2 linked regions of the Homo sapiens genome follow. The protein of the gene in region 1 interacts with the protein of each later gene in a pairwise test. Each region holds a gene or a part of one and is shown on either strand. Other genes may lie near its edges.

Region 1 (3,817 bases):
GTTGCCCAGACTGGTCTCGAACTGCTGGACTCAAGCAACCCGCCAATCTCGGCCTCCCAAAGTGCTGGGATTACAGGCCTGAGCCACCATGCCCAGACTTTGACACACTGATTTAATTGTTAACCTCTTTTTACTGAAGTTGAACCTCGAAGTCATGGAGTGAACAGGTGGCAGAGCCAATCATAAAAACCATATTCTTTCTCCTTGTTCATTGCTGACATTCTTTGATAGTCACGTCCCTAAACCCAAGTGAGGCCCTCAGAGCACTGACCACTAAAGACCAATTACTTTTCCATCAAAGTGCAAAGTGGTAATTCAAACTTCCTTTAACTGTCAAGCATCCTGGGCTACAGAGCCAAGAAGATAATCAACAATCAAAAGGTGATACGATTATTTCAAGTTCCCCTCTTTAGAGTTCATGGCTGTTGCTGATGATGCTGGTGCCAGAGTAGTGTTTTAACCTTAGCGCTCTCCCATGGTAACCACAAAGGCAGCAGGAGGGCAGGTGGGAGGTTCCAGAGTTGTCAGCACGTTGGTGAAATGCCTGCCCTCATTTTAACGACGCCGTGGATGTTTGTGTTTGCCTTCCGTTGGCTGTTTCAAACTTAACTTTCTAGTTTGACAATCATATTTTACCTTCAGTGATTCTTTTGTTTCAGAACTGATTGTGTCCTCTAATAGCTAACTAATATTTTTGTATATTTTGATTATTTCTAGTAATTTTTGTTAATTTTATTCATATATACACAATTTGGAAAATCCTCTTGCTGTAGTTATGAATACTTTTTATAGATGCTAAGATTTTAAAATTGCTGGAATAGATAATAAATTTGCAATTTTATTTTTAAATGACTTACCTTTTTTCCCCTACTGTGTCAGGAACCTTAAAGGCGGTGTTTCAAGGTTGGTGGGTCTCATAACTGCTTTGCTTGCTTTTCCCTGAAAGGGGTCTGTCTTTTCACGGGAGTTTCTCTAACGTGCTTTGCAGAGTGATGCTTGCCTTACTGCAGGCCGCTGATTGTTTTGCTAATGCTTTTTATCTTTGCTTTGGGAAACTGCAGATCTGAAGCTGTCTTATTTATGGCAACTTCTGTTTGAGGCCCTAATGCTTATGTTGGTGTGGAACATCAAAAGAATGCTTCTTAACCCATTTTCAAGCCCCAAAAAGTTGATATTTCACTAGACCTTAGCTTTTCAGCTGTTGGAGAAGTATGCGTTTTTCCAGAACCATTGTCCATTCACTTTAGTGCTACTCAAAAGAGCTGCTCCCAGAAAGCTCTGGAGGATAAAAACAGGGCTTCCTTATCTGGGGATTTGCTGTTAGGCTGACAGTGACCAGCTGGTGACAAGTGTGACGCCGGGCACAGCAGTCCTGTGAGGCTGGTCTGGTGTCTTGCTGGTTCCGTCTGGTCAGAATTAAAGCAGCCCCCCGGGAAAGTTGGCCTAGAATGTAGAACTTAAAATGGCAGTCCTCTTTTTTCTTTTTGGTTCACATATATTTAATGTAATTTAGGTACACTTTTTTACATCTGTCAGATTTGAATGAAATAACTGATGTTTTTATTGAACATTGTGTTCATGCTTTTGAAGAATTAAACTGCTTTTTCTAAAGGTGACGTGGGATTGTGTGTATGTGAACATGAATGTCTGTTTTCAGTTTCTGCATTATTTAGATGCCTAGCGTGTGCAAGATATTTTATGTAGCATATTAATTTTGAATGTTTTTAAATTATTGAGGTTATGTCCTTAAGTAAATATAATGATTAAAATGTTTTACTCTGGAAGAAAACAAAGTTAGGCATTTTAGTGAAAAGAAGTTTATAATTTTCCCTTTCGACATCTTCTGAAGAATGCATTGCATAAAATATTGTGTTCTTATTTTCAAACAGGATTTTAGTCAATGAAATAAGTTCAGCATTCCCTTGAACTTACTTTACTTTTTCCTCTCGTGTTTCAGGAAACTCTTATCACTACTATTGATTCTAGTTCCAGGTATGTGGTAGCTTTCTTTTAAAGCAGTAGTGGGTGGGAGGGCTCATGGGTCCAGGTTGGACAAGGTGCGTCCCCCACCTTCTGGGTTCCTGGGCCTGACACTGTGCTGTCTCAGCAACCTTCTGCTGAAGGCCAGACTGTTCAGAGCACTCAGCCTCAAACTTTCAGGTAGCCGACTGTGAACACTGTCCACAGCCACGTGATCTAGCTGGCTGGCTGCATCCACCCCAAGGAACAAACAGAACAATTGCATTTCCTTTTCCCCCAGGGCAGCATCTTAGGCGGCCAGTCCCACAGCACCTCCCTGGCTCATCCAAGCAGACATTTCCTTCCTTTCAATCCATGTCTGTTTCTTAAACTCTAGTGATTACATTTCCCTAAACATGGGTCAGTTTTCCTTTGTCATTTTTATTAGCTTTAAAGTTGAAGCTGGTAATCTATGTGTAGCACGACTCAATTGTTCTAGGCACCAGATTTGTTTATGATAGTCCAAGTGCACATTAACATCTTTGGCAGCTCTACCATATTGACTTCAGTAGTAGCCACTTTTTTGGACCCAAGCTCAAAACCACACATTTGTATTTCATCCTGTCAAATTTAACTGCCTCAGTCCGTTGGTGTTCTGGAATATTCCCTGCCTGCAGGCAGTATTTCACCTTACTCTTCATTAACAAGCCAGTTTCTTTCTAAAGTGAAATTGAAAAACCCCACCAAACCCCACTAAGACAAAAGTTACACTTGTAATTCTTATGAAAGTTTCACTTGTAATCCTTATGAAAGGATTATACTTGTAGTCCCTATGAAACACATATGTATACCAAGTCTATTTCTAAAGCCTACACATTAATTTCCATTTTTCTAAGAAATTAAGTCAAAGATCAAAATCTAAAGATTCAAATCTAATTTAAAGATTCAAATAGAGGCCAGGCGCGGTGGCTCACGCCTGTAATCCCAGCACTTTGGGAGGCCGAGGCAGGTGGATCACGAGGTCAGGAGATCGAGACCATCCTGGCTAACACAGTGAAACCCTGTCTCTACTAAAAATACAAAAAAATTAGCCGGGCATGGTGGCGGGCGCCTGTAGTTCCAGCTACTCGGGAGGCTGAGGCAGGAGAATGGTGTGAACCCAGGAGGCGGAGCTTGCAGTGAGCCAAGATCGTGCCACTGCACTCCAGCCTGAGCAACAGAGCAAGACTCTGTATCAAAAAAAAAAAAAAGATTCAAATAGAAATTATAGCTCATCCCTCCTTTGTCCCTGATTTGATTTGTAATCTGTAATTTATAGATCGAAATTCTATGCATCAGGACTGTAAATTTAGGCTTTTTTTTTTTTTTTTTTGGTGAATTTAGACCTGTGGACCACACACCAAGTAGTCTGGCCATTCTGTTTCTTAACCCTTTAAATCCACTTCAGCACAGGTAGTAAAGATTAGATTTTCCAAACCTAAGCTTAAAGCTGTGGTGTTAATGGCAGTGTTAATCATCACAGGGCCCATACTCTTCAACTTTACAGCTGGTGGGGCATTCATTTTTTGGTTTGTTTATTTTTGTTAGTTTGTTTTTGAGACAGTCTCGCTCTATCACACAGGCTGGAGTGCAGTGGCGTGATCTCGGCTCACTGCAACCTCTGCCTCCCAGGTTCAAGCGATTCTCCTGCCCCAGCCTCCCAAGTAGCTGGGATTACAATTAGCTACTGCCACCACGCCCAGCTACTTTTTGTATTTTTTGGTAGAAGGTTTTTACTATGTTGGCCAGGCTGGTCTCAAACTTCTGACCTCAAGTGATCCGTCTGCCTTGGCCTCCCAAAGTGCTGGGATTACAGGCG
Region 2 (3,817 bases), on another chromosome or scaffold:
AGCTTTTTGGAGAAATACTTCTATTTAATATGAAGAAACAATATCCCATTTATTTTATTTTTAAATAAATTCTCCCTAATACACTTTTGAGTCTCTTAGAGAAAATGATACTTCTGAGTGTGGTGGATCATAGTTTAATAGAGTATTTGAGAGTCAAATTGAAAACAATGACAACAACCACAACAACAAAAAAAACCTTTGGATTAATAGTTGGGAAGTGGCAGGGAAAAGCCAAATCTAAGGTTCCAATTAAGAGAATTAATCTGGAAGCTGGAAGTCTGGGATTAGCGCTCCTGTGAAAATAGATATGAGGCCATGGTATAGAATCTTCTTACTGTCTGAGGGATTTTGCCCAAAGCATCAGCAATTGCCATAGCTTTCTTCTCTGGAATTTCTGAGACCATTGATCCCAAAGAGAAAACCACAATTCCATGTTCTCCAGAAGCATTAATGTAGGCTTCAAATTCCTAGAGCCAGAAGAAAAATTTTCAGTTAATTTTTTCTCATATTCTTTGATGACTACATACAGTAAGTTATGAATTAGATATCTTCCTCTTAAGACTATGATTAAAGGCATGCGTGTTTGAGATAGAGTAAAAAATTATTAATATGTAAGTTTTACAGCATTTTCCTCTCCTTTACTTCCTTCTAAAGGAGGAAGGGTTCCTGCTTACAGAATTATCCTTGAGATGCAAAATCCAGGTAATGTGCTAGTTTTCCAAAAGAAAAGCACAGGTACATGCACACACATGCACACACCTGTACATACACACAGTGATAATTCCACTTAGAGAACACAGAGCAAGGCATCAGTGATACAGAAGGGAAGAGCTGGGAAGGGCGTGGTCCCTTTAAATGATATGGAAGTAGGGAAGGGAAGTGCTGGGTAGAAGAGGGTGTGGTCCCTGGCGAGGGCTCCACCCCCAGACCTGTGCCCATGGACCTAGGTGAGGACAGGCATTTTTGTTTTCCTGCCTAAATGTTTCATTTCCCAAAACCACCCTGGCCTGCCACGCCCCCATCATGTGCCTATAAAAACCCCAAGACCCTAGCAGGCAGACACACAGGTAGCTGGACATCGGGAGGAGCACATCAGCGGAGGGACGCAAGGACAGCTGGACATTGAGAAGAACTCACCAACAGGCACCGGCAGGCCACTGACCAGCAGAACAACGCGGAGTTTGGCTGAGGCAGTCGGAGGAGAGCCCAGGCCACCGAGCCCGGGCCACCGAGCCCGGGCCACTGAGCGGTCTGACTCCAGGGGAAACCCTTCCCATTCCATCCCCTTCTGGCTTCCCCCATCTGCTGAGAGCTACATCCACTCAATAAATCCTTGCACTCATTCTCCAAGCCCAGGTGGGATTCGATTCTTCTGGTACACCAAGGCAAGCCCCCAGGATACAGAAAGCCCTCTGTCCTTGCGACAAGGTAGAGGGTGTAATTGAGCTGGTTAACACAAGCTGACTATAGAGGGCAAAACTAAAAGAAGGCCATAACCCACGCCCACTGGAGCTTCAGGAGCTGTAAACATCCACCTCTAGACACTGCCGGTGAGGTCAGAGCCCCACAACCTGCCCGTCTGTATGCTCCCCTAGAGGTTTGAGCAGTGGCGCACTGAGAAAGTGAGCCCCTCCCGCTGTCACATGCTCTGTGAGGGGGACAAGGAAAGTTTTCCTGTTTCATCAACATGGCAATTCTTTTCTCACTGTAGATTTTCAGTGGTCCAATGAATCCCCCAAGAATCTCTCAAATGGCTTTATGGGTTTATTTATTATTATTATTATTATTAATTATTATTATTATTATTTACTTGAAGTTCTGGGATACATATGCCATGGTGGTTTGCTGCACCTATTGACCTATCCTCTAAGTTCCTCCCCTCACCCCTCACCCCGCCACAAGCCCTGGTGTGTGTTGTTCCCCTCCCTGCGTCTACGCATTCTCACTGTTCAACTCCCACTTATGAGTGAGAACATGCGGTGTTTGATTTTCTGTTCCTGTGTTAGTTTGTGGAGGATGATGGCTTCCAGCTTCATCCATGTCCTTGCAAAGAATATGATCTCATTCCTTGTTATGGCTGCATAGTATTCCATGGTGTATATGTACCACATTTTCTTTATCCAATCTACCATTGATGGGCATCTGGGTTGGTTCCATGACTTTGTTATTGTGAATAGTGCTGCAATAAACAAATATGTGCATGTGTCTTTATAGTAGAATAATTTATATTTCTTTGGGTATATACCCAGTAATGGGATTACTGAGTCTATGGTTTTATGTTTGCAAAGAATACTGAGGGCACTAATATGATTGTGTGATGTGGCAGGGCTTGCCCAAACTGAGGGGTTCCCTAGGACATGTGATGTTCAGTGCTAAAACCTGAACAGTCCTGAGGAAGCCAGGATGCTGGTCACCCTAGATGTGAGACACAGGAGACCTCTGACAGGGCTCAGCAAACGCAATTTGCACAGCAGGACTCCTGCCAAGCCTGATTTGGAACATGACCAGGAAAGCCCCAGACACTGACCATCCTTCTCCCAAGGTGAGCCCTCTCTCCCCGCCACTCTCACCAGCCCCAGGCCCTCGTGAGTCCTCTGGCTCTTAAGGGCTTTGTCTTTGCCTTTTCCCTTGGGCTCATCTAAAAGTCAGGGAGGACAGAGTCATCCTCCCCACCACCATGCTGCATTTTTTGGTTTGTAGCAAGAACACCCTGAGGATGGTTTTTCTGAACTCCTTCCTCCCTAGGGTCTGCACCACATCTCTCCCCTCTTTCTCTCCCTCTTTCTTGGGGAGACACAGCTCATTTCCAAGTGCTCTTCAAGTTCTTTCTTCTGAGCGTTGGTAAATGGCTTACTTAAATTTCCTAGGACCTTTGCTCTTCATGAAACCCACTCTTACACTGAAGCTCATCTGGAAAAGGCCGAGTCTAAGTTCTCCTCCAGGCACACCCTCCCACACGCCCACTCAGCAATCAGCAGGATGTGATTCACACAAAATTGAACCCACAGGTCCATAAACATTCGAAGTTAAATAGCAGGAGATCACGAAAGTTTAAATGGCACAAAAGTTCATCTGGAGATTCACGCAGGGCAAACTGCAGAGAAGTTGTCATCACGGCCAACTCCTACCTGAGCCAGCTACTATGAGGCTCAATAAAGGTGAAGTCCATCCCCTACTTGGCAAAGCTTCCCTTAAACTTCACCCTGACTTCACAGTTACCGGAATGACCAAAGAGTGAAGCAACATATTAACTGAAAATAACACTCCAATCCCCCACCATTGATTCCCTTCAAAGAAAAGATGAGATGCCCCTGAATGAGAGAATTTCCCTGTTCTGATGAGACTTCACCAGCCAAAATGAGACATTTAACATAACTCCTAAACTTTACCAAGAATTTTGTATTTTTAGTTTAGGCTTTTAATTAGATTTTCCCTTCCCAAATGCATTTCATTTTCCCAGAATTCTTCTTTAGCACTTAGACACCATGTGGGTCATCTGTGACTTCACCATCACGCATTCCCAGTAACCCACATATATCTCAACCTTCCCTGCTCCCAAGCTTTCCTCTCCTGGCCATCTCGAAGCCTTGGTCCTCACTAATCTTCTGTTTAGTTATTTTTCTCAGACCCAGCATTGCGATTGTCTGTGAACCACTGCTATCTTACCCTGGCAGGGGAGGAACATCTTGGAATTCTTGAGTTTCATTCCTTTTCTCCCAATGTTGTTCCACTATCTCTTTTCCTTCAGACACACCAAAGACACGCCAATGCCAGGTTGTGCTTTCTCTATGGACTTCTTTGTGCAATAAAAGTTTTA

What was found.
Region 2: the proteins of CYB5A (region 1) and UGT1A4 interact in a two-hybrid assay, tested with the Homo sapiens proteins (one large-scale study listed by BioGRID and IntAct).

Annotation. Positions count from the first base shown.
Region 1 is NC_000018.10:74,253,916-74,257,732, reverse strand, and holds part of CYB5A (cytochrome b5), read left to right. Parts: intron 1-879; coding exon of another isoform or gene 880-888; exon of another isoform or gene 889-1,794; intron 1,795-1,957; coding exon 1,958-1,992; intron 1,993-3,817.
Region 2 is NC_000002.12:233,763,684-233,767,500, reverse strand, and holds part of UGT1A4 (UDP-glucuronosyltransferase 1A4 precursor), read right to left. Parts: intron 468-3,817; coding exon 336-467; intron 1-335. Other genes in the region: UGT1A1 (UDP-glucuronosyltransferase 1A1 precursor), read right to left, coding at 336-467; UGT1A3 (UDP-glucuronosyltransferase 1A3 precursor), read right to left, coding at 336-467; UGT1A5 (UDP-glucuronosyltransferase 1A5 precursor), read right to left, coding at 336-467; UGT1A6 (UDP-glucuronosyltransferase 1A6 isoform 1 precursor), read right to left, coding at 336-467; UGT1A7 (UDP-glucuronosyltransferase 1A7 precursor), read right to left, coding at 336-467; UGT1A9 (UDP-glucuronosyltransferase 1A9 precursor), read right to left, coding at 336-467; UGT1A10 (UDP-glucuronosyltransferase 1A10 precursor), read right to left, coding at 336-467; UGT1A8 (UDP-glucuronosyltransferase 1A8 precursor), read right to left, coding at 336-467.